2 separate regions of the Homo sapiens genome follow, and region 1 is linked to region 2. The links come from fine-mapping of genetic effects on gene expression. A gene starts in region 2. The other region holds a variant in brackets. All regions are shown on one strand. Distances are from middle to middle.

What was found. PIP is the estimated chance that this variant, and not a neighbour inherited with it, causes the effect.
Region 1: its variant is fine-mapped to the expression of CST6 in lung (TOPMed, PIP 0.94).

Annotation. Positions count from the first base shown.
Region 1 is chr11:65,926,757-65,941,101 of GRCh38, forward strand. LOC105369350 (a long non-coding RNA gene) reads right to left here. Exons shown (of 3, transcript XR_950212.3): 2 at 11,552-11,723; 3 at 11,036-11,340. Among named protein-coding and RNA genes, the nearest start is that of TSGA10IP, 12 kb to the right of the region's middle. RefSeq lists a cis regulatory region at 1,116-1,681 and enhancers at 1,218-1,647, 1,362-1,656, 10,481-11,005, 14,262-14,345. The variant A/G (reference allele first, on the strand shown) is at 10,489.
Region 2 is chr11:66,004,165-66,016,720 of GRCh38, forward strand. CST6 (cystatin E/M) reads left to right here and starts at 7,844. Exons shown (of 3, transcript NM_001323.4): 1 at 7,844-8,120; 2 at 8,662-8,787; 3 at 9,153-9,341. The coding sequence starts at 7,881. The coding sequence ends at 9,236. RefSeq lists a silencer at 3,194-3,488 and enhancers at 4,146-4,940, 9,326-9,901.

The sequences.
Region 1 (14,345 bases), 77 kb before region 2:
CCCAAAGTGCTGGGATTACAGGCATGAGCCACCCCACCTGGCCTCTACCTCTGTTTTCTTTTCTTTTTTTGAGGCGGAGTTTCTCTCTTGTCACCCAGGCTGGAGAGCAGTGGTGCTATCTCGGCTCACCACAACCTCCGCCTCTCAGGTTCAAGCGATTCTCCTGCTTCAGCCTCCCGAGTAGCTGGGATTACAGGCATACGCCACCACACCCGGCTAATTTTGTATTGTTTTTAGTAGAGACAGGGTTTCTTCATGTTGGTCAGGCTGGTTTCAAACTCCTGACTTCAGGTGATCCGCCCGCCTCGGCCCCCCAAAGTGCTGGGATTACAGGCGTGAGCCACCTTGCCCAGCCTATCTCTATTTTCTAATCTGTAAAACGGGGATCATAATAGCACCTCCTTCAGGGACATGTGATGGTTTCATGAGATATGATATGTAAGTCGCTCAGCACAGTGCCTGGCATACAGTAAGCACCCAATAAATGGTGCCTGCTGTTATGGACATTTATGGAAATAAGATCCTGGAAAGCAGATTGGAAGGGCATGTACTAAACAGACAAGGGGATGTCGTGGCTCAAAGCAGCAGGAGTAGGACTGGGATGCAGGGAAGGGGAGAGTCCATTGAAAGGGGAAGCTTTAGGCTGGGTGTGGTGGCTCAAGCCTGTAATCCCAGCACTTTGGGCAGCCAAGGTGGGCGGATCACCTGAGGTTGGGAGTTCCAGACCAGCCTGACCATCATGGAGACACCCCATCTCTACTAAAAATACAAAATTAGCCGGACATGGTGGCGCATGCCTGTAATCCCAGCTACTCGGGAGGCTGAGGCAGGAGAATTGCTTGAACCCGGGAGGCGGAGGTTGCGGTGAGCCAAGATCGTGCCATGGGACTCCAACCTGGGCAACAGGAACGAAACTCCATCTCAAACAAACAAACAAACAAACAAAAAAGAAAAGAAAAGGGAAGCTTTTCAGGGCCCTATGGCTGCATGGAGTGCCCCAAACTAAGGCGCATGTCTGCTTGATTCTATGCACCCTGTGTTGAAAAAACAGAAAAGACATTGTCAGAATGGGCCCAACCTCAGGGGACAGCATCACATAGGGCAGGGTAAAGCATGGCCCTGCAGGATTCATGGGATCATACATTGTCTTCATTCAGTCACTCAAGAAATATTTGCTGAGTACCTACTCTGTGCCGGGCCCTGCTCTGGGCTTGGGGAAGGTGAACTCAGAGAAAACACACAGAGCCTCTGCTCCCTAGCTCAGTCCAGTTGGGGGAAGGGGCAGCAGACTGATGGTAAACAAATAGGTACATTCACGCCTCTCCAGGGGTAGTGGGGAGAGGGGACCCCGAGGAGGCCAGCGTGTTGAAGCCGCAGCAAGCAAGTGGGTGGGCAGGGCCCTGGTTCCTCCAGGGGGGTGCGGCTGCCCTGTTTTTAGCCACAGATGCTCTTCCATTCCAGCCTGGTGCCCAGAGTCGGTTTCACTTTCCTCTTACCCGTTTTCTTAGAGTTTGGTTTCTGTTTTGTGGGTTCCCTGCCCCCCTTCCGCCTTTGTCTGGAGTTGCAGATTAGCCTAGTGGTTCTCAACCCTGGCTACATCTTAGAACCCTGGGGAGCTTTTTTTTCTTTTTTTCTTTTTTTTTTTTTTGAGACAGGGTCTCATTCTGTCTCCCAGACTGGAGTGAAGTGGCGCGATCTTGGCTCACTGCAACCTCTGCCTCCCAGGTTCAAGTGATTCTCCTTTCTGCCTCAGTCTCCCCAGTAGCTGGGGAGGCTACTCGCCACCACGCCTGGCAATTTTTTGTATTTTTAGTAGAGACAAGTTCTCACCATGTTGACCAGGCTGGTCTCAAACTCCTGACCTTAAGTGATCCACCCGCCTCGGCCTCCCAAAGTGCTGGGATTACAGGCCTGAGCCACTGTGCCCGGCCGACCCTGGGGAACTTTAAAATACCCATATCTGGGCCTGTCTTCAGTTAGATCAGAAGCCCTGAAGATGAGCCTTCCCAAACTCTGGTCTCGTCTTCTTAACTCGGTGAGAACAACGGTTGCCCTCCCAGTGCAGTGGTAGGAAAATCACCTATGCAATGTCAGGGCTCCTCCCCTTTATCTTCCGTTTTTCAGGGATCACAGCCCTGAGCTGCCCTTTGTCTAATATCTGAAAACACTTGTTTCCTGTGCTTTGTCCAGTTTCTTAGCTGTTTGTAGAAAAAGGGCAATTTCAGTTCACCTTACTTCCTCAAGGCCAGAACCTAGAGTCCCTCCTCATCCTTTGAACTCCCCAAGTCCTTCACCTGTCCCCTCTCCAAGTTTCTTCCCATGCTCTGGCTGGGATAACTGTGCTTGCAGGTTTCACCTCCACTTCTGGAAAGCGCCCCTCTTGGGGACACAGGGCCTGTCGGATTCACGTCTGTGTCTCCAGGATGTCTCACAGGGCCTGGCACGTGGTAGGTACGTGGTGGGCATGTTTTTGTGCATGGGTCTGCCCTGCCCTTCTTCCTTCAGGCCACCCCAAATCATATCCGTATCCCTAGAGAACTGACGCCCACCCCACTCCAACCAGGTGGCACCTCCAGGACCGCTGGTCAAGATACCCTCCCCACAGCCATTGGTCAGGGGTGGCCGTGAGACTCAAGACAGCACATGTGGCCGGGTGCAATCGCTCACGCCTGTAATCCCAGGACTTTGGAACGCTGAGGCAGGCAGATCACCTGGGATCAGGAGTTCAAGACAAGCCTGGCCAACATGGCAAAACCCCATCTCTACTAAAAATACAAAAATTAGCTGGATGTGGTGGTGGGTGCCTGTAATCCCAGCTACTCAGGAGGCTGAGGCTGCAGAATTGCGAGAACCTGGGCAGTGGAGGTTGTAGTGAGCCGAGATCGCACCACTGCACTCCAGCCTGGGCGATAGAGCAAGACTCCGTTTTTTAAATAAATTACCCAGTTCCAGGTTTTCTGTTATAAGCAACAGAGAATGGGTGAAGACATTTATTTTTATCTTTAATAATGTATTTAGGCCAATTGTATGCTAGAGAGACCTGACTACTACAAGACATCATTGTATGCTTGCCGAATAAATGAAATACCATTGATTAATTTGCAAACCACATTCCCAGTGCACCTGAGGTGGCTTCCAACAAGAACAAGGAAGGTAAAATTTAAAAAACAGAAATGGAGATTCAAGAATGTGGATGGGTGCAGTGGTATACACCCGTGCTACCAGTGGTGCACTCCCAGCTACTCTGGAGGCCCGAGGAGGGAGGATCACTTGAGACCAGGAATGTGAGTCCAGACTGGGCAACATAGCAAGATCTTATCTCTAAAAACAAAAAATTTTAGGCCGGGTGTGGTGGCTCATGCCTGTAATCCCAGCACTTTGGGAGGCTGAGGAGGGCGGATCACGAGGTCAAGAGATCGAGACCATCCTGACCAACATGGTGAAACCCTGTCTCTACTAAAAATACAAAAATTAGCTGGGTGTGGTGGTGCACGCCTGCAGCCCCAGGTACTCGGGAGGCTGAGGCAGCAGAATCTCTTGAACTCGGGAGATGGAGGTTGTAGTGAGCCAAGATCGTGCCACTGCACTCCAGCCTGGTGACAAAGCGAAACTCTATCTGAAAAAAAAAAAAAAAAAAAAAATTTAGGCCACATGGGATGGCTCACACCATAATCCCAGCACTTTGGGAGGCCAAGGCAGGAGGATCACTTGAGGCCAGGAGTTTGATACCAGCCTAGGCAACATAGTGAGACCCTGTCTCTAAAAAAATTATTAAAAAATTTTTTAAATAAAATAATAAAATATAATTAAAAGAGAAAATAAAGATCAGAAACAATAGCATACATATATAAATATGCAACCCATAAAGGCCTGTAAAAGTGCTTTATTAATTCAATATCAAATTTAGTTCTGAGCTTTCTGGCAGCCAAAGCAAAAAACTTTTTTTTTTTTTTCCGGAGAAAACTTCTTCAGTGGAAAGAAATTTTTTCCTAGACTTTAGCTGCAAAAGAACAGTTTCAGATGGGGCCTGCGGTGTGATGTGGTGAAGGCCAATCTCAGCCGCATTCGCACAGCCAAAGCCTGTAATAAGCCTCCCACAATGAGTCCTTGGAGAATGGGTCCAGGCGATTCAGTTGTTCTCATTTGGGCTCGCCTTGACCTCTCAGTGGCTCTTGTCATAGTTGGTCGCTTGCCTCCTCTTTGAAACACTTTCTTCACTTGGATGGGGGCCCTCACTCTCTTGGCAATCTTTTTTTTTTTTTGAGACGGAGTCTCGCACTCTCACCCAGGCTGGAGTGCAGTGGCGCCATCTCGGCTCACTACAAGCTCCGCCTCCCGGGTCCACACCATTCTCCTGCCTCAGCCTCCCGAGTAGCTGGGACTACAGGCGCCCGCCACCACGCATGGCTAATTTTTTTTATTTTTACTAGAGACGGGGTTTCACCGTATGAGCCAGGATGGTCTCGATCTTCTGACCTTGTGATCCGCCGCCTCATCCTCCTAAAGTGCTGGGATTACAGGCGTGAGCCACCGCGCCCGGCCTCTCTTGGCAATCTTCTTCCCCACCGTGGGCTGTGGTCTTGTCTCCATGGCCACATCTCCCTGACCTCTCTTGACCTCTGAATGGTGGTGGGCCCAGGCTCAGACCTCTCCCCTGCCCTCCCTTCCCCTCCCTTCCCCTCCCCTCCCACTTCCTGGATGACAGGCCACTGTTTCCACCCCAGGCCCTCCAGTCTAATTTCTACTCACAGCCAGAGGGAGTGCAGCCATTACATCTTATGCTGCCATTTCCTCATCGTCCTGTGATCACCTAAAGTTACTAAACAAATCTCTATTAAAGTGCCCAGTTTTGTGTAGTGGCCAAATCCCAGAACTTGATTTAGAATGAAGTATTCTTGGGCTGGGCGTGGTAGTACGCACCTGTAGTCCCAGCTGGTCGTGAGGCTGAGGCTGCAGGGATCGCTTGAGTTTGAGGCTGCAGGGACCCAAGATAGCACCACTGCACTCAAGCCTGGGCAACAGAGCGAGAGCTTGTCTCAAAACAAACAAACAAACAAACAAACAAACAAAAAAAACGAACACAGCTTTTTCCACTTCTGGCCATTGCAGCCCCCACTGATAAGGAGTCAGGGAAGTCGGGTCTGCGCCTCTCCCTGGCCCCATTCCCAGGCTTGAGAAGACGCTGCCTTTGGAGAACAGGGAGGGAGGGCAGTGGGTGCAGAGAGTGCATCCTGGATTGACACTGGTGTAAGATGGCATCTCACTCCTTGGGTGGCAGCTGTCTAAAGCTGGCTCCTGCCCTCAGGGGTTTTATGGGCTCCCTTATGTACTACCCCCTTGACTGAAACTCCTGGCAAAGGGGCAGCCCCTCTCTGTTGACTGGCTCTGGTTTTCTTTCAAGTGGCATGCACTACCCCACTCTGTTGCATACCCTGTGCCAGAGAAAACAAGCCCGTGGGGCCAGACCCCTTTTTCCATTCCTGCGGTCCAGTGCCCACTGCAGGTCACCTCCTTTCTGGAGGCCTTTCCTACCAATGACCCACGGGGGTGCCATGACTGCAGGAAGCCCACCTCAAGCGCTCTGGGGGGCTTCCTTGAAGCACTTCTCACCAGATTTGAGGTTAGAAGGCAGCTCCCCAGCTCCACCCCCTGCAGACTCACTGCCATAGCAGCTCTTTCCAAATCAAATCACCGCAAACTGCCCCTTTCAAATCCACCCTCGATCCCTTTATACTCTTGCGGTGGATGAGGGGCTTCGACAGTGGCAACATGGGTTTCTGCTTTCTTTAAAATTTTGCAGTTTGGCCAGGAGCAAGCACTTCACTTTGGCATTTCATATCCATTCCATTCTAGAGCCTCAGTCAAATATTCTTGCACGCTGTTCATCCTTAGGACAAACCCAGAATCCTTTCCCTGGCTCCCAGGCCCCACGTGATCTGACTCTTGAGCACCCCCCCATGGAGGTTTATTTATTTATTTTTTTGAGGCGGAGTCTCACTCTGTCGCCCAGGCTGGAATACAATGACGCGATCTCAGCTTGCTGCAACCTCTGCCTCCCGGGTTCAAGTGATTCTTGAGCCTCAGCCTTCCGAGTAGCTGGGACTACAGGTGTGTGCCACCATACTTGGCTAATTGTTTTGTATTTTTTTAGTAGAGACGGGGTTTCACCATGTTGGCCAGGCTGATCTCAAACCTCTGACCTCAAGCGATCTGCCCAACTCGGCATCCTAAAGTGCTAGGATTACAGGTGTGAGCCACCGTGCCCAGCCCCCCATGGAGGTTTAAAATATCAAAATACCAACCTGGGCACAGTGGCACACACCTGTAGTCCCAGCTACTCAATAGGATCGTTCTAGCCCAGGAATTTGAGTCCAGTCTGAGCAACATAGCAAAACCCCATTTCCAAATAACATAAAATATCAAAATACCAAAAAACATTACAAATAATTGTATGTTGGTAAATATAGAAACTTAAGCAAAGTAAATACCTTTCTGGAAGAATGTGAAATGTCAAAATTGGCACAAAAATATCAAAACTTCAGTAGACCCATAACCAGGAAAGAAAATTGAGTAGCTCATGCCTGTGACCTCAGCACTTTGTTTTATTTTGTTTTTGAGATGGAGTCTCACTCTTATTGCCCAGGCTGGAGTGTGGTGGCGCAATCTCGGCTCACTGCAACCCCTGCCTCCCATTTTCAAGCGATTCTCCTGCCTCAGCCTTCCGAGTAGCTGGGATTAAAGGCGCCAGCCACCACGCCCAGCTAATTTTTTTGTATTTTTAGTAGAGACAGAGTTTCACCACGTTGGCCAGGCTGGTCTCGAACTCCTGACCTCAGGTGATCCACCTGGCTAAGCCTTCCGAAGTGCTGGGATTACAGGTGTGAGCCACTGCACCCGTCCTAACCTCAGCACTTTGGGAGGCTAAGGCAGAAGGATCATTTGAGGCGAGGAATATAAAATCAGCCTGGGAAACATAGCGAGACCCTGTCTCTTGGGAAAACAACAACAACAACAACACTACAATAGGCCGGGCACAGTGGCTCACGCCTATAATCTTAGTACTTTGGGAGGCTAAGGCAGGCAGATCACCTGAGGTTGGGAGTTCGAGACCAGCCTGGCCAACATGGTGAAACTCTGTCTCTACTAAAAATACAAAAATTACCCGGATGTGGTGGCACATGCCTGTAATCCCAGCTACTTGGGAGGCTGAGGCACGAGAATCACTTGAACCTGGGAGGTGGAGGTTGCAGTGAGCCGAGATCACTCTACTGCACTCCAGCCTGGGCGACAGAGCAAGACTCCATCTCAAAAAAAAAAAAAAAAAAAAAACTAAAAGAAAAAGAAACTTGTAATCTGAGACTCCAATGTGAAAAAACCCAATAGAAATGTTTTTATAGGGCAGTTCTACCAGCCTTTGGAGGAACAGATGGTCCTTATCTCACACCAGTTGTTACAGAAGCCAGAAAGAGAGAAGGCTGCCCAATTTCTTGTATGACCCCCGCAAGCCAGATAAAGACAGTATCAGAAAAGTCTGTACACAGAGCATTTCGTTATGGACACAGATGTTAAGCGTAAACTAATAGAATAGAATATAGGAAAATACCCCACCTAGGGATAGGAAAAGAAAGACTCTCAAAATACAAAGCTCTATTCAAAAACATTTATGAGTCTAACTCCATCAAAATTAAAGATTTTTTTTTTACCAGACTTAAAAAAAGATTAAGGATTTCTGGCCAGGCACGGTGGCTCACACCTGTAATCCCAGCACTTTGGGAGGCCAAGGTGGGTGAATCACTTGAGGTCAGGAGTTCGAGGGCAGCCTGGCCAACATGGTGAAACCCCATCTTTACAAAAATTAGCCAGTCGTGGTGGCACATACCTGTAATCCCAGCTACTCGGGAGGCTGAGGCAGGATAATTGTTTTGAACGTGGGTGGTGGAGGTTGCAGTGAGCTGAGATTGCACAACTGCACTCCAGTCTGGGTAACAGAGCGAGAGAGCGAGAATCCGTCTCGAAAAAAAAAAAAAAGTACCAGACCTCATTTTATGACCCCAGGGTTAGTCAAAATTCATAAGGTGAATAATGTCAATGTTTGGTGAGAATGTGGGCAGACAGAAATCCTTGGTCTTCTGTAGGCACATAAACTGACAGCCCTTCTCTCAAGCAATCTGAAATTAGGTGTATGTTTATGCCAAGACCTTACACTCTCAGCCTTGGATAAGTAGGCCAGAGAGATTCTCATTCAGGTGTACAAAGAGGCATGTGCAGCGGTGTTGACCACGGTGTTCTTTGTGAGAACAGGACTTGGGAGCCAGTCTGGCATCCATTGTCAGAAGGATGAATTAAGTAAAGCATACAAAGGGAAACTACGGAACACTATGCAACAGTCAGGATCTACAAGGCTTTTAAAACACAGTGCGGGCCAGGCACAGTGGCTCACGCCTGTATTCCCAGCACTTTGGGAGGCCGAGACGGGCGGATCACCTGAGGTCAGCAGTTCAAGACCAGCCTGGCCAACATGGTGAAACCTGGTCTCTACTAAAAAATAAATACAAAAATTAGCTGGGTATGGTAACGCAAGTCTGTAATCCCAGCTACTTGGGAGGCTGAGGCAGGAGAATTGCTTGAGCCCGGGAGGTGGAGGTTGCAGCGAGCTAAGATTGCACCACTGCACTCCAGCCTGGGCAACAAAGCGAGACTCTGTCTCAAAAAAAAAAAAAATCAAAAAACAAAAAACAAAAACAAAAACCACAGTGTTAGCAGCGGAGGGTGGCATGTGCCCATAATCCCAGATACTTGGGATGCTGAGGCGGGAGGATCTCTTGACCCCAGGAGTTTGAGGCCAGCCTGGGCAATATGAGACCTTGTCTCTAAAAACAAAACGATGGGGCATGGTGATTCATGCCTATAATTCCAGCTTTTTTTTTTTTTTTTTGAGAAGGAGTCTCGCTCTGTTGCCCAGGCTGGAGTGCAGTGGCATGATCTTGGCTCACTACAAGCTCTGCCTCCCGGGTTCACGCCATTCTCTGGCCTGAGCCTCCCGAGTAGCTGGGACTACAGGCGCCCGCCACCATGCCCGGCTAATTTTTTGTATTTTTAGTAGAGACGGGGTTTCACCATGTTAGCTAAGATGGTCTCAATCTCCTGACCTCGTGATCCTCCCTCTTCGGCCTCCCAAAGTGCTGGGATTACAGGCGTGAGCCACCGCGCCCAGCCTAATTCCAGCTTTTATTTATTTATTTATTTATTTCTGAGATGGAGTCTTGTTCTGTCACCCAGGCTGGAGTGCAGTAGTGTGATCTCAGCTAGCTGCAACCTCTGCCTGGGTTCAAGTGATTCTCCTGCTTCAGCCTCCTGAGTTAGCTGGGACTACAGGTGTGTGCCACCATGCCCGACTAATTTTTGTATTTTTAGTAGAGACGGGATTTCACAGTGATGGCCAGGCTTGTCTTGAACTCCTGACCTCAAGTAATCCACCTGCCTCGGCCTCCCAAAGTGCTGGGATTACATGCATAAGCCACCTTGCCCAGCCTGATTCTAGCATTTTGAGTAGGCTTAAGCGGGAGGAGTCCTTGAGGCCAGGAGTTCAAGATTAGCCTAGGCAGCATAGTGAGACCTCTGTCTCTCCAAAACTAATTTTTTTTTAAAGTAGCCAGGCATGGTGGCACATGCCTGTAGTCCAAGCTACTCAGGACGTTGTGGTTGTGGTAGAGGATCACCTGAGCCCAGGAGTTCGAGGCTGCAGTGAGCTATAATCACACCACTGCACTCCAGCCTGGGTGACAGAGTGAGGCCTTATCTCTAGAAAATAAAATAAATTTTAAAAACCCTAAAGCACAGTTTTGAAGGAAACGAGTAAGGAACAAAAATGAGATCAATACTGCTTATGCAAATTAAATACATACAATACCATTTATTTATTTTTATACTTAGTTTTATTTTTTATGTTTTTCTTGAGACAGGGTTTCACTCTGTCACCCAGACTGGAGTGCAGTGGTGTGATCATAGCTCATTGCAGCCTCAACCTCCTGGGCGCAGGTGATCCTCCCGCCTCAGCCTCCCGAGTAGCTGGAACTACAGGGACACGCCACCATGCCCAGCTAATTTCTTTGTATATTTTTGTGGAGCTGGGGTTTCACCATGTTTCTCAGGCTGGTCTCCAACTCCTGAACTCCAGCAATCCACCTACCTTGACCTCCCAAAGTGCTGGGATTACAGGCGTGAGCCACTGCACCCGGACCACAATACCACTTACATAAACAAAAAATACATACACACAAAAATGATAAAAGCTTCACAATGATCCGTTAACATCTTTCTTTCTTTCTTTTTCTTTCTTTCTTTCTTTCTCTCTCTCTTTCTTTCTTTCTCTCTTTATTTATTTATTTTTTTCAGAGTCTTGCTCTGTTGCCCAGGCTACAATGCAGTGGCATGTTCTCAGCTCACTGCAACATCTGCCTCCCATGTTCAAGCAATTCTCCTGCCTCA[A/G]CCTCCTGAGTAGCTGGGATTACAGGCACGTGCCACCACGCCTGGCTAATTTTTGTATTTTTAGTAGAGATGGGGTTTCACCATGTTGGCCAGGCTGGTTTCGAACACCTGACCTCAAGTGATCCACCTGCCTCGGCCACCCAAAGTGCTGGGATTACAGGCATGAGTCACCACGCCCAGCCTATTCACATTTAAATAGGATGGAGCGGGGATCAAAGATGAAGAAGAAAATACAAAGGCAAAACAAGAGTCGCATTGCATCCATTGATGCTTTTTGTATGCTGTGAAATAAGGAATACAATAAACTCAGCTATCTGCTCCCCAGGACTAATGCAGAAGAGAAATGTGCAAAGGACATGGACAGGAATTCACAGAGGTAGCACAAATGGTCCATGGAGATAGGAAAATACTTGAACCTCACAAATAATGAAGGTGTGGAGACAAAAATGACCCCATCTTAGACGTGAATCCGCCATGCTGACTTCTGAATAGCTGCAGTCCCGTGAATACCTCCTGATTCCTACTCTATTTACTGCCCTTAGCATAAGACTATGTCCACCTTGATGTTATCACACCAATTATAGGCTATAACGTATGCAGATTCTTGCCTGTTCTGGAGGGCTGCCTTTAATTGTCTTGCACAGAACACTCATACCCTTTCCCTATGGTACATAAGCCTTGGCTCTAGGATGACAGGCACGGAGATCTGTTTGTCTCGTGGCTGCCCAAGACCAAGCTTGTCTGTAAGGTCACCCAAATAAATCACCCTGTACCAGCAAACTGGATTTGTCTGCCTTGTTCTTTGGTTTCTCTGCTCCTTCAGCATTCGGGAGCTGCCTTGCATATCTGGCCCTTTCATGAAAGAGAAGAGAATACAAGTTATTGCAACAATGCAATAATAGCTTTTCATCTATCAGATTAGCAAAGTGAAAATTATAATTGCTGGTGAGGGTATAAATACTGTTGATGGAAATCTATAATGATTGAGCCTTTAGGGGGAATAATTAGGCACCATCAAGATCTAAATGGCTTAGAGCTAGCTAGTTTGCTTATAGAACATTACCTTGCAGAAATCTCAAGACACATTTCCAGGGATGTCCGCAGCTGCAGTGTCTGGAGTGAGGACGCAAGCGGAAGCAGTCCCGGTGTTTGACAAAAGGACACAGGTGATGTACATTAGGTGGGTCAGACAGCCAAACAGTGATGATGGTAAAGACTGGGTGGCTCTGTATGTCCTGACATGGAAAGAATATAACATTCTAGTAGGCAAAACCAGGATGATCTCATTTTTGTTGAAAAATATGTATATGTAGGTTTGTATACACACACACACACACACACACACACACACACACACACACGTCTATCTCTAAAATCACAAGATATTCAAATGGTACACTGGCTCAGGTCTTGGTTTTGCATCGGAGGCCAAGGACAAAGCAATAGCCCCAGGGCCCTGCATTGCTAATCAGGTGCCAGGCCCCCTTGCAGTGAGGACAGGACACTCCTGACCTCAAGTGATCCACCCACCTCAGCCTCCCAAAGTGCTGGGATTACAGGCGTGAGCCACCGCGCCCGGCCCAGACTAGACATTTCAATTTCAATTTCTGAGGCTGTTCTTAGTGATCAGAGGACTTTTCACTACCTGAGGTGACTTGAGAAGTCATAGTGCCTGCTCACGTCTTATCCAGGCCTGGGAACGGCTTGGCCCAAGGGGGAGTGGGTGGGTGGAAAAGGATGCAGCTGTCTCTGTCCGAATGCTGCACCCCGCCTTGCTCAGGGTGTCAGTTCCACATTTGTTTGTGCTCACAGGGGAAAAACACGGGCCAAATACACACCCAAAAGTTAACAGCAGTTCTACTGCACAGATTTAATTTTTTTTTAGACAGAGTTTTACTCTTGTTGCCCAGGCTGGAGTGCAGTGGTACGATCTCGGCTCACTGCAACCTCTGCCTCCCTGATTCAAGCGATTCTCCTGCCTGAGCCTCCCAAAGTAGCTGGGATTACAGGCGCCTGCCACCACACCCTGGTAATTTTTTTGTATTTTTAGCTGAGACGGGGTTTCATCATGTTGACCAGGCTGGTCTCGAACTCCTGACCTCAGGTGATCCACCTGCCTCAGCCTCCCAAAGTGCTGGGATTACAGCTGTGAGCCACTGCACCTGGTCATATTTAAATTTTTGACAGTGTGCATATATTACTTCTATTATCTGAAGAACCAATAAAGATGTTTTCTATCTGTACATGTATTTATTATTTTATTGTATTGTATTTCATTTTATTTTATTTTATTTTATTTTATTTTTTGAGACAGTCTCATTCTGTTGCCCAGGCTGGAGTGCAGTGGTGTGATCTTGGCTCACTGCAGCCTCCACCCCCTGGGTTCAAGCAATTCTCCCATCTCAGCCTCCCGAGTAGCTGGGACTACAGGCATGCACCTCCATGCCCGGCTAATTTTTTTGTATTTTAAGTAGAGACAGGGTTTATCCATGTTGCTTGGGCTGGTCTCAAACTCCGGTGCTCAAGCCATCCTCCTGCCTCAGACTCTCAAAGTGCTGGGATTACAGGCGTGAGCCACTACTCCAGGCTCCCATTGCAGGTTTTAAGCAGAAGTCTTTAAAAAATGGCCCAAGCTGGCCGGGCTCGGTGGCTTACGCCTGTAATCCCAGCACTTTGGGAGGCAGAGGCGGGTGGATCATGAGGTCAGGAGATCGAGACCATCCTGGCTAACACAGTGAAACCCCGCCTCTACTAAAAATACAAAAAATTAGCCGGGCATGGTGGCGGGCGCCTGTAGTCCCAGCTACTCGGGAGGCTGAGGCAGGAGAATGGCGTCAACCCAGGAGGCGGAGCTTGCAGTGAGCCGAGATTGCGCCACTGCACTCCAGCCTGGACGACAGAACAAGAGACTCCATCTCAAAAAAAAAAAAAATGGCCCAGGCTGCTGGGTTGGGAATTGACCATGAAGAAGCAGAAAGTCTATGTAGAAGACAACGGATGTTGAGAATGCTCCAAATAGCTGGTGGTAAGCGTTCAGATTCTGAATGCACTTTGAAATCAGGAACAACTGTTGGATAGGACATAGCATTTCAGAGAGAGAAAAGCCTAGGCTTTTGGTTCGAGAAACTAGAAGGATAGCATAGTCACTAGGCCAAGATGGAGAGGGCTGTGGGGAGGGTCAGGGAGTCAGTTTCAGAGTTGTTGAATGTGAGATGCCTGTTAGACACCTAGATGGAGCAGTGGACTGGGTCATTCGAGTTTGGGAGGCAGGACTCACCTTCTGAGCTTGAGGGAGATGTCTGGACTACAGATAAAAGTGGGGTTCATTGTCTGATAGATTTTATTTAAAATGAGCCTGTCATGCCTGTAATCCCAGCACTTTGGGAGTCTGAAGCAGGAAGATCTCTTGAGCCCAGGGGTTCAAGACCAGCCTGTGCAACATGGCTAGACGTTGTCTCTACAAAAAATACAAAAAATCAGCTGGGCATGGTGGTGCACACCTTTAGTTCCAGCTGCTCAGGAGGCTGAGGCGGGAGTGTCACTTGAGCCCAGGAGGTCGAGGCTGCAGTGAGCCATGATCACGCAACTGCACTCCAGTCAGTCTAGGTGACAGAGTGAGACCTTGTCTCAAAAAAAAAAAAAAACAACCAAAAACCCAAAAACACAAAACCATGGTCCTGGTGAGTCCAGTAAAAGAGGAGCTGTGGCCGGGCGTGGTGGCTCATGCCTGTAATCTCAGCACTTTGGAGGCCGAGGCGGGCGGATCACGAGGTTAGGAGTTCGAGACCAGCCTGGCCAACATAGCGAAACCCCGTCTCTACTAAAAATACAAAAATTAGCCAGGCATGGTGGTTTGC
Region 2 (12,556 bases):
TGAAAAGCAAGTGGGCTGGGAGTTGCCTCTCCTTCAGGGACTGACCATGTTTCCCTCACTCCTTATCAGTAGAGACCGAAACTGGCAGCTTCCCTTCCACTCCCAGAGGGCAGCCACCCTAGCCATGTAGGCCTCAGGCAGGTGACTTTTGTCTCAATCCCCGAGTGATGTGGGAGAGGGTGTGGGTGGATCTTTTCCTGGGAGCCAGATGGACTGTGCTCCAGATGTCAGTTAAGTCAACAGCTGGGCTAGGCAGCACCTGGTGGAAAAGTCAGTGGGAGTCAGAGGTACCAGACAGGGTGGGCCGGATGTGGGTGAGAGTTCACCTGCCAGTCATCATCTGCTCTCCCGGCCTCTGTAAGGGTGGGCAGGGTGCTTGCCATCTTCCATGATCTCTTAGGGAGGAGAAGGAGCACAGGCATCACAGCTGGAAGGATGTGAGGGGAGTACACCTCAGTACATTTTAGTCCTGTTCTTTTTGTTTACTTTTTAACTTAATAGGGACAGGGCCCTGCTCTGTTGCCCATGCTGGCCTTAAGCGATCCTTAAGCCTCCCAAAGCGCTGTGACTATAGGTGTGAGCCACCATACCCGGCCAGCCCTATTATTTCTTGAACACTTAGTATGAACCAGGCTTGAAGCTAAAATCTTTGCAAACATTTTTTTCTTTCACAGTAATAAATATTTTCTCCTTTACAGGTGAGGAAATTTGAGGCTCAGAGAGGCTAATTTGCCCATGGACTTGCTCCTGGGAAGTAGCCAGACTGGAACTCAAACTAGCTTGGAAACCCAGGGACCCGGCCATGTGTTCCTTGGTCATGTGGCTTAGCCTCTCTGAGCCTCAGTTTCTCCACTTGGAAAATGAGGTGGTTGTAGGGAAAGGATATTTGCAGCAGTATAAACAACAAAGGACTATTTCCATAGCACATACAGAATTGCAATCAAGAAAAAAGCGGACTGGCTGGGCGCAATGGCTCACGTTTGTAATCCCAGCACTTTCAGAGGCCGAGGTGGGTGGATCACCTGAGGTCAGGAGTTCAAGACCAGCCTGGCCAACATGGTGAGACCCCATCTCTACCAAAAATACAAAAATTAGCCGGGTGTGGTGGTGCACGCCTATAATCCCAGCTACTCAGGAGACTAAGGCAGGAGAATCGAACTTGGGAGGCAGAGGTTGCAGTGAGCCGAGATCACGGCCATTGCACTCCAGCCAGGGTGACCAGAATGAAACTTTGTCTCAAAAAAAAAAAAAAACAACAGAAAAATGGGTAAAAGATCTAAGACGGCCACAGAAGAGGGTTCCCTCCCAGTAAATAAGCACAGGAAAGGTGCTCCATATTGCTAGTAATAAGACATCACATGCCATTAACACCCACCTGACTGGCAAACACTTTTAAGTTGGACAATACCAAGTATTGATGAGATAATGAAGCAACAGGAACTGATACCTAGCTGGTGGGAGTATAAATTGGTCTAAACAATTTGGGAAGACAGTTGGGTGTTATTTAGTAAAACTGACACGCCCTGTGACCAAGCAGTTCCACTCTCAGGACTGTGCCTTGAAGAAAGTCCCGAACACCTGCAGCAGGACCTAGATGAGTTTGCAGCTGCATTGTTGGGAGCAACGCTAGCGGCTGTCAATACTAGAGTAGATAAATAGGCACTCATGCCACCGGACACTGGACGGAGGTAAAAATGAACAAATGATAGTTGTGTACAACACGAATCTCAATAGCAAATGAAGACAAACAAATTCTTAGGAATTCCTACATAGATGGTAAAACTAGAAGGAAAACAAAGGAAATGATTATGGTAAATAGTAAAGGAAAAAGTCTACAGGGATTATCTTTGGGGGAGGGTGTGGAAGGGCTTAAGGGTAGGCTTGGCCTACCCTGACCTGTGTTTCTGACCTATGGGGTGGTGGTACAGGCATTGACCAAAAGTGTATGTTCTGCGCCCTTTTCAGTGTATTCGCTACATCTCAACAATAGAAAGATAACAGGAAAACCAAAAATAAAGACCTGAGGCTGGAACGATTGAGTGAAAGGTCAGAAACTAAATTGTTATTTGTAGGGATGAGAGTTCTGTGCAAGGCTGGGACTGGAAAGTGCGAGTGGCCCAGCTTGAAAGGGACACCAGGTGACTGCAGCAGGGCCCAGCTTGTGCTTCAAGCCGCTTCCTGGGAGGCTGCTGGTCTGAGTCCCGGCTGAGGTGGTCACGAGGGCTCTCTCTTGAGTTTCAGACTGTTTCTGATGTCTTCCCGGCTAAGTCCCCTCAGCCTTGACCCTCATGCTATGATGCTGTCGCAGGCCTTGTGTGCTTAGGTGGGGGCTTTGCAGGGCTCCGGCCTCACCACACCTCAGTCCTGATGCTGCCAGCTTGTTGCTGGTGCTCTGTGAGGTCATGGAGACTCCTCCTCCATGAAGCCCTTCCCTGGGCTCCTGCCCACGCTGGCCTCCTGGTTTGGCCTCGCCTGGTGGCACTGGGACCCTGCTGGAAGCCTGCGGCTCATGCTGTCTGCTTTATTTCCTTGTTGTCTGCCTTTCCCGGCTCACCCACAGGCTTTGCCATAGAAGGGACTGGAACCTGCCTTCTCACCTCTCCCTTGGGGCACAGGCAGTGCATATACCAGGTGGCAGGCCACAAACCCTTTATCAGGACTCCATATTGCATCCCACACAAGTTCTTGGCTCTGTCCTGGGACAGCAGTAGACAAAGGGCATCTAGAATGTACCTTGTGACAGTGTGGCCTCTCAGATCCAGCCCGACTCAGCCAGCAGGACAAAGGGACCACGGCTTGGAATGCTGGCGCAGAAAGCAGACCTGGCTGGTGAGGGGTATGAGTCAGGTTGTCTCAGTGTCAGCCCGTGGTGTCCAAGAGGACATGCCTGGCCACCCACTAGCCTGGGACATAGGTGGGCCCAGAAATCAGCAAATACTGACCCCATCCCCCCATCACACCCAGCCAGAGCTTGACCCCCTCAGCTGGTCTAGTCATGAGTGCTCAGAGCCAGCCTAGAACTTCGTGTGAACCCAGCCCATGCACTCTGGGGTGCTGAAGGGCTCCTGCTGCCCCCAGAAAGGAAGTAGGGGGAGGCTACCTGGACCACCACAAGCCCTGCCCCCGGCAGCCTGCTGAGCATGGAAGGCTCCCAGCAGGTGCTTGTGACTGTTGATCCCTTTCCAGGCTGGCCCCTCCCTGTGGGGACCAGGGCTCTTTCCTGTCACTCCCAACCTTGACTGGTGGCAGCCTTGAAGAGCCAGCCAGGCCCGATTCTGGGGCTTTGCTCCCCATGCGATCTGGAGCAAGTTGCTTCACTCCCCTGAGCTACAGCCTCCTCTGCCAGCTGATAACAGGGTTGTGAAGATTCAACCAGTGAATCAGCAGCGCTTAGGAGCGCTCCTCCCCAGAGGGGAGCTTTAATCCCTGTTGGATTACAGGTTTCCTTGCTGAAAGATCTCCTTTCCAGGATATGGGGCTACAGAGCCCTGGGGGGAGGGCAATATCCTCTGCCCAACTGAAGGTTCAAGGAAGAGGGTTCTGGGGGAAGCATCGAAGCCTTGGAGAGCCTGATCCCAGAGGGAAGGAGATGTCAAGAACCTGCCCTGGTCATCTCCACCCATCAGGCCAGGGGCAAGAGAGGGGTGCTGTGGACAACCTGGGGTGGGATGTCTGGGCCACTGCAAAACTGGAGGCTCTGCCCTGTGGCCAGTACATTTGACCGACCTCAAGCTCACGCTTGGCGCAAACCTCCTGGAAGCCAGAGTGGTCCAGACGGGATGGAGTCAGGCCCTGGGAAAGTCTGCTCAGGGACACCCCATCTGCAAGAAACAACCCCTACACCATGCACAGCAGACCTCAAACCCCTGTGGAGCAGCCCAGGACTCATGCACCGGGACCCACCACTAACCTTTCCCCTTTGATCTCCCATTTCCTCCTTGTAGGAAGAGATAATAGTCATTGTCTGTGCAGAGCTGCTATGGGAATGAAAGAACATATATTGAATCCCTGGCGCAAGGCCTGGCACACAGCAAGAGTTCTTACCATTGTTAATCCTCCCCACCTTTTCTTACCAAGATACCACTTCTAGCTGTGTGACCTTAGACAAGTGTCCCGACCTCTCTGATTAACTTCTTCATCTGCAAAGTGAGGATAATGTGTACTCCCTCAGGGTGCTTGTGAGAATCAGTGGGTGAAAAGTGCTCAGAAATTGCTAGGTTGTACTGCAAAAAAAGTCCTTTGCATCAGCACAAAGCAGAGGCAGGTGGAGTGGGTGCCCTTGGTGAGTGGCAGACAGGCCTTGGCTAGTTTTTGAGAGAGCTGTTGGAGGTACCTGTGGCCATGGCTAAGCTCCAAGTGATGACACAGCAGGCCCAGGGGAGCTGCCTCTCCCACCTCGCCCCTGTGGCACGATCCTGGTACTCTTCCTCTACCCCTCCCAGGCTTTCAGCTCAGAGTCCTGGCCAGGCGTCATCCTCCTGATCAACTCAAGCTCGGCCAGCACTTCCACAAACTGGAGTCTGTCCCTTTAAGCCAGACACCTGAGGCCGCCAGGAACTTGTGACGGTTCCTTGGAATCCCAGGAAGATGGCAGAGTTGGTTTTCCACAGCTGGGCTGAGGAAGTGAGGTGGGTAGCAGGCTGGCAGCTGCCCTGGGCAGTGAGTGACCGCTGTGGTCTAGGTCTCTGTGTGGGAAATCACTTCCTTTTGTGGTCCTGGGATTCTAAGGCCCAGAATCAGGAAGGGAGGGTGACACGCTGGATGCCTACATACAATATCCATCACAGTGACAGTTGCCAGCTGCTCTTTACGTACTGTGACCTAGCACCTCTTCCAAGCCCCAGTGAAGCCCCTGGAGGCTCTAAGCACTGCAAGATCTTAGTGCCCCAGGGACAATAAGCCCCGCCCCCCAGCAACATGGAATTACAAATACAAACTACACTGAACTCTAAAATGCAGACAAATAATTCCAAGGCCTGCCTGTAATCCCAGCATTTTGGGAAGCTGAGGTGGGAGGATCTCGTGATCTCTTGAGGCCAGGCATTCGAGACCCACCTGGCACTACTGTGAGACCCCATCTCTACAAAAAAATATAAGAATTAGCCAGGTGTGGAAAAAAATTAACCAGGCATGGGGGCATGCGCCTGTGGTCCCAGCTACTTGGGAGGCTGAGATGGGAGGATAGCTTGAAGCCAGGAAGTCGAGTTATAGTGAGCTATGATAGCGCCACTGCACTCTAGCCTGGCTGACAGAGCGCTGTCACAAAAAAAAAAAAAAATTCAACAAAATCCAGACTTTTCTTGCGTTGACTACTTCAACACTGCTTTTCATCTGTTCCTTTTTTTTTTTGAGACAGAGTCTTGCTCTGTCACCCAGGTGGAGTGCAGTGGCACCATCACTGCTCACTGCAGCCTCGACCTCCCAGACTCTAGTAATCCTCCCACCTCAGCCTCCCGAGTAGCTGGGACCACAGGCGTGCACCACCATGCACAGCTAATTTATTTTAGATTTTTTGGTAGAGACGGCTCACTATGTTGCCCAGGCTGGTCTCAAACTCCTGGCCTCAAGTGATCCTCCTGCTTCCGACTCCCAAAGTCCTGGGATTACAGGTGTGAGCTACCGTGTGATTAATAGATCACCACCTATTAATAATAATCAATTAATTATTGGAGTCTTTTTTTTTTGAGATAGAGTCTTGCTCTGTCACCCAGGCTGGAGTGCAGTGGGTGCCGTCTCAGCTCACTGCAACCTCTGCCTCCCAGGTTCAAGTGATTCACCCACCTCAGCCTCCCAAGTAGCTGAGACTACAGGTGTGCACCACCACACCCAGCTAATTTTTGTATTTTTAGTAGAGATGGGGTGTTGGGAGCCGAAAGGGCCAAAGGGATTGTGACCAACTCAGCATTCCACTGAAGGCTATATGATCAAACAGCCACCTGTTTATCACGAATGCAGGATGTGGGCAAACTCCCACTGCCCTGCCACCAAAAGGTTTGCTGAGGGCCTTACTCCTTGGCACTGGGGTCCCTGAAGTTATCTACTGAGAAAATTAGCACCTATTGTTCAAAGGATGCAGTCTCACAAGCCTGCTGTGAACCAAAGTGCTGACCGACAATTACCTGACATACCCGACAATCACCCTCCCCCTTTCTCGCTATCTCTTTTGCCTACTACATACAGAGGGCTGTGTAAAGCTCAGGGCCCTTGTCCACTAGAGGCAAGGTGCCCCCTGACCCCTTCTTCCAAATATACTCTTTTGTCTCTTGTCTTTTATTCCCACGTTTGCCCGGCTTTGTTCAGTCCCCCTAGGTCCGTGCGGGCTATGATGGGGTTTCACCATGTTGGCCAGGCTGGTCTCGAACTCCTGGCCTCAAGTGATCTGCCCACCTCGGCCTCCCAAAGTGCTGGGATTACAGGCGTGAGCCACCACACCTGGCAATTATTGGAGTCTTTAAAAACACAGTCATGGGCCTTGTTTGCTGGTACCTCCAGCACATGCTCACTGTATCCACGGGACAGCCAGATTCGAAACATCAATATCAGAACAAACTTAGGAGATAAGGTGTCTTTCAGACGAGGGCACGGAGGCTCTGTGTGGGAGGTTGAGGGACTTGCCCAAAGCCATGCCGTCAGTAAGATGGCAGAGCTGACATGACTGACACCCCCTCCTTCTGGGCAGTTTGTGTCCTGTGGGCTCAGTCTGGTTTAAGACCACAGATTTGACTTAGACTGTCAGCACACACAAGCCAGTGTCACCATTTATTTCCTGCCGGTGTCTTTGGGCAAATCCATTTTCCCTTCTCTGTAAAGTGGAAACTATTTTTTTTCTTTTTTCTTTTTTTTTTTTGTGAGACAGAGTCTCTCTCTGTCACCCAGGCTAGAGCGCAGTGGTGCCATTTTGGCTCACTGCAACCTCTGCCTCCCAGGTTCAAGCAATTCCCCTGCCTCAGCCTTCTGAGTAGCTGGGAATTCAGGTGTGTGCCACCACGCCTGGCTAATTTTTGTATTTTTGGTAGAGACGGGGTTTCACCATGTTGGCCAGGCTGGTCTTGAACTCCTGACCTCAAGTGATCTGCCTGCCTCGGCCTCCCAAAGTGCTGGGATTACAAGTGTGAGCCCTCATGCCCGGCCTTCTTTTTTTTTTTTTTTTTTTTTTTTTTTTTTGAGTCAGCGTCTAGCTCTGTCGCCCAGGCTGGAATGCTGCAGTGGTGAGATCACGATTCACTGACTTGAACTCCTTGGCTCAAGTGGTCCTCCCACCTTGGCCTCTCAAAGTGCTGGAATTACAAGCATGCCTAGGTGCCTGGCCAGGTAGAAACATTAGTCACTCGCGCTCCAGGAAGGTTGTCAGGCAGCGCTGAGCAGTAATGTGTCCTACTCACCTGCTGTTTATCCAGCACCAGACCTCTTCTAAGAACTTTACCTGTTTCAGCTCACTGAATCCTCACAACACCCATTGTACAGAAGAGGAAACTGAGGCAGCGAGTGGTTAAGTGACTTCTCCGAGGTTACACAGCTAGGAAATGGTGGCAACAGTAAGAGCCCACGAAGAGCTGCGGTTGGTAGTTCATTCTGGACAGCCCTCCCGTGAACCGTCCCTGTACTGGCACTTGTTGCTGGGGACTGTCGCTGTCCTCTCCCTCCCCGGGCCAGGTGTGTCCTGGAGGGCAGGGAAGCGTCTTGGCACGCGGGTGCGCGCCGCCCCCTCGGCCTCCTGGGCTCCCTGAACCTCGCAGGACCCCGGCAACTTCGAGCCCCGCCCCAGCTCCAGGCCGCGGGGGCGCATCGCGGGCGTCGGGCGGGGCGGCCCAGCGGGTAAAAGCTGCGCGGCCGCAAGCTCGGCACTCACGGCTCTGAGGGCTCCGACGGCACTGACGGCCATGGCGCGTTCGAACCTCCCGCTGGCGCTGGGCCTGGCCCTGGTCGCATTCTGCCTCCTGGCGCTGCCACGCGACGCCCGGGCCCGGCCGCAGGAGCGCATGGTCGGAGAACTCCGGGACCTGTCGCCCGACGACCCGCAGGTGCAGAAGGCGGCGCAGGCGGCCGTGGCCAGCTACAACATGGGCAGCAACAGCATCTACTACTTCCGAGACACGCACATCATCAAGGCGCAGAGCCAGGTGCGGCGGGCGGGGTGCTGGGAGGGGACACCCGGCCCAGATGGGGGAGGCCACAGGCGCTGCCCCAGCGTGCATGAAGGGGGCCTAAAAGCGCAATCGGGATATTTTCATGCAATATTTTAAAAATCGAATTAATGCTAAAACTCCACGATGGACAACCATCTAAATTTCAAGGAAAGACATAATTAAACCCTGTATTGCACTACCTGCCTTCCTGGCTTGCCTGGTCCTAGTCTCTGCCCTGATGGGGTGGATCGGGGAGGAGGGAAGGCAGGTGGGGACAGTGGGCAGCTCCCTAGATGGGGCATGTCTGATGTCTGCCAAGGCTGCTGGTGGGGCTCAGCCTCCAGGCCTCTCCACCCTCCATCCCCACCAGAACTCCCCCCCCCACCCCCCCCCACCCCCCCCCACCCCGTCTGAATCATCCCCTCTCCCTCTCTCCCCACCTGAGTGCCTGGGGGCAACAGGAGAATATATCAAGAGGTGAGAAGTGAGGATCAAGGGTCAAGACCCCTGACCTGCCCCTACCCTATGCCCCCAGCTGGTGGCCGGCATCAAGTACTTCCTGACGATGGAGATGGGGAGCACAGACTGCCGCAAGACCAGGGTCACTGGAGACCACGTCGACCTCACCACTTGCCCCCTGGCAGCAGGGGCGCAGCAGGAGGTAACAGCTGGGCTCCTCCAGCCCCAGCCCTCCCCAGAGCCTCAGGCACTCAGGTTGTCCATCCTGAACTGGTTTGGCTGGACACGTAGATGTCTAGATGTCTGGCTGAACCTGTCGTCCTTCTGGATGAGTCAGCCTCTGGGCCAAGATGGGGTGCAGAAAGGAAGCTGGGGCTTCCCTCGGGAATGGGGAAGTTGGCTACCAAGATCTGGAGTCTAGCCCCAGACATGCGGCTTGACATCCGTTGGGTCAGTGATTGTCCCTCTCTTGGCCTGGAGCAGCCTGGCAGGCAGAGGGCTGGCTGTTGGGAGGAGACAGGTCGAGGCTGGGCTCACCCCTCCTTCTCCCCCATATTCCCTCCACAGAAGCTGCGCTGTGACTTTGAGGTCCTTGTGGTTCCCTGGCAGAACTCCTCTCAGCTCCTAAAGCACAACTGTGTGCAGATGTGATAAGTCCCCGAGGGCGAAGGCCATTGGGTTTGGGGCCATGGTGGAGGGCACTTCAGGTCCGTGGGCCGTATCTGTCACAATAAATGGCCAGTGCTGCTTCTTGCATTGGTTTCTTCCAAGTGCTTCGCTTCTGCCCCCATCCCCCACTCCCACTTCTGGCAGCTCCCAGCTCCCCAGCCCAAGCTGAGAGGTCACCCTGCCACCTGCAGCAGAGCTGCTGCTGTCCCAGCCCAGACAGTGCTGAAGGTGCAGGGCTGAGCCTCCAAATGTGGAGCCCCCAAACACCCCAGCATCACAGGCATAGAGGAACAAACCTTAGAGCCCCCACACACAGCCAGAGACTCCCAATATTCTCAGAGGTCAGGGGTGGCGGCAGACTCACAGAGGAGGGGCGATGGCCTGAGATAAGAACAGGGCCGGCTGCCTGGGAGCACTCTGAGGAGGAGTCTGTGCTGTGCTCCCACTCAGCCCCAGGAGGAGCTCATGGGTGGCATGGGGGGCTTCAATCAGGCAGTGTCCTCACCCAGGACACTGAGCTCCCAGCCTATAAAGATTCCTCCACCTGCATGTGGCCCAACGATGGCAGAGTCCCTGCAGGCCAAGAGACCATGAAGGCTAGGACAGTGCCTCTCAGTCCACACTGTGGGCTCCACGCCACAAGGACGCCTCTCTTGCCTTGCCCTGGGCAAGACGCCTGAAAGGGGCTAGACTAGGAGCCGCAGAGGGACAGAGATTGTCTAGCGCCCACAGGAGGGGTGAGGGGACAGATTCAATGTAATGTCATTTAAAGAAAACAGCATTGCAGCCGGCCTCACACCTGTAATCCCAGCACTTTGGTAGGCTGAGGTGGATGGATCACCTGAGGTCAGGGGTTCAAGACCAGCCTGGTGGCCGGGCGCGGTGACTCACGCCTGTAATCCCAGCACTTTGGGAGGCCGAGGCGGGCAGATCACGAGGTCAGCAGATCGAGACCATCCTGGGTAACACGGTGAAACCCCGTCTCTACTAAAAATACAAAAAATTAGCTGGGTGTAGTGGCGGGCGCCTGTAGTCCCAGCTACTCGGGAGGCTGAGGCAGGAGAATGGCGTGAACCCGGGAGGTGGAGCTTGCAGTGAGCCGAGATGGCGCCACTGCACTCCAGCCTGGGCGCCAGAGCCAGACTCCATCTCAAAAAAAAAAAAAAAAAAAAAAAAACCAGCCTGGCCAACATGGTGAAATCCCATCTCAACCAAGAATACAAAAATTATCTGGGTGTGGTGGCAGGTGCCTGTAATCTCAGCTACTCAGGAAGCTGAGGTAGGAGAATCGCTTGAATCCAGGAGGCAGAGGTTGCAGTGAGCCGAGATTGCGCCACTGCACTCCAGTCTGGGAGACAGAGCGAGACTCCATCTCAAAAAAATTAAAAATAAAAAAAGAAGAAGAAAACAGCATTGCAACATTTGCACATCTGAATTTGTGGCTGCAATTCATACCCCCCCATACATATACACACGCACACACCCAAAGCACAACACACCAGACATACACACACAGACACCCAGAGCACACACTCAGATGCTGGCAGATATCACATGCATACCCAGAGAAACACAGCCTAGCAACTCATGAGCACAGAAGCAACACACCCTAGAGAAACAACCTGGAGATGTACACACAAAACTCAAACACAACCCAAGGACCCACATGCCACACCCAGAGGTTCCTCAGATGCACAAGCACACACCCACACTTGGGATATGGGCCTTGGGGGTGCTAGGTATAGGCACCATCAGGCCCAGGCAGGCAGCACTGCAGTGGCTGCGGAGAGCATCCCACGGTCCTTCCTTTCTGACAAGGCCTCACACCCTGCTTGTGCCTGCCTGGTCCCCTGCCCAAGGCTGGGGCCTAATAAGCAGCAGCCCCAGCTCCCAGGCCCTGCTGTCGGCCTTTGGAGGCCAGATTGGGGTAGAGACGGGGAAACGGGAAGTAGACCCTGGGTCCCACCTGGGAGTGAGAAGCTGAGGGGTGGCATTTGACAGGAGCTGGGGACCCAGGAGACAACATCCAGCCCTGCTTCTGCTCAAGCTTGTCAGATGTGGCAGCTCAGACAGCCCAGGGTGTGTGCGGGGCCTGCTGCTTGGAAGGGCTCCCATGTGCCACCAAGCAGGGACTCCCAGCATGGGGCAGGCACAGGGTGGGTGGCAGGAAATGCCTGTTGAATGAATGTGTGAGGTGGTGGAGAGAAGCAAGGCCCAGAGACGCCTGCCCGGTGACCTCTCCGCCCCTGGAATCTGTGCCCAAATCCCAGATGGCATTTCCTCCGCATAGTCTATTCCTGGGCCCTGGGCCCTGGGCCAGCCAGTGCCTTCCGCCAGACCAGGGAGGGGAGGTGCTTCTTCTGTCCTGGGACCCTGGAAGCTCCAGCACTGACTGGTCTGGTCCAGAGATGGGAGGGTTGGCAAAAAACTATTGCCCTTCAGCTCCCGCTCCTGACTCCCTCCGGCCTGAACTGCACCCTGGATTCGCCTCTACTAGAGGTGAGATGGCTGTTGTAGATAATGGAAAACCCTCCACTTAAGGAGAGACCCCTGGGGCCAGGGCGAGGCTTGAACTTGACTCAGTGCTAGGTCTCCAGCACCCAGCATAGGCCAGTGTCCCACTGTCACCCCCAGCCATGGGGACAGGGGCTCTGGACATCCAGCCTAGGCTCAGGCTATCAGTCGGGGAGGTCATCTAAGTCCTAGAGCAGGCAATGGGGCGCAGCCTTCAGCCTCATTCCCTGCTTCCCTCTCCCAGCAGCAGGGTCCTCCACACATCCCTGCCCGCCCCTTGCCCTGAGGCCAGAAGGACTTGAGCAGCCCCGACTCCACCTCCCCTCAGTGGGGCTCTAGAGTCTGACCCCAGAAAGGGCAGGATATGGCAATGACCTCCGACCTCTGGGTTCATGATATCCCCATCCGGTTGGTGCTCTTCTACTGGAGCTGAGGGTCCTGGTAGGATTGAGTTCCTGGGCTCTGAGTCCCCATTCCTAGAGCCTATTGGGCCCCCAGGCCCTGGTAACCCTGGGGTGTTCAGGCCTATTCTTTTTCTCCTGACTCTTGGGCCAGATGGGCCTTCCTCCCCAAAGCAGGGTTACTGCCTCCTCGGCCCTCCCGGCACCGCCGGCACCTGAGCTCAGCCCACGTTCTGCTTCATCCCTCCAGCTGCTGCTAATGCCCTGCTGGGCTGAGCTAGCATGCGGGCGCTGGTAGGGCTGGAGGGGATCCAAGAGCAGCTCCTTTCACATGCAACACGGGCACACACTCGTTCGTGTGTGTGCACCAATTCCCTTCCCTGCGCC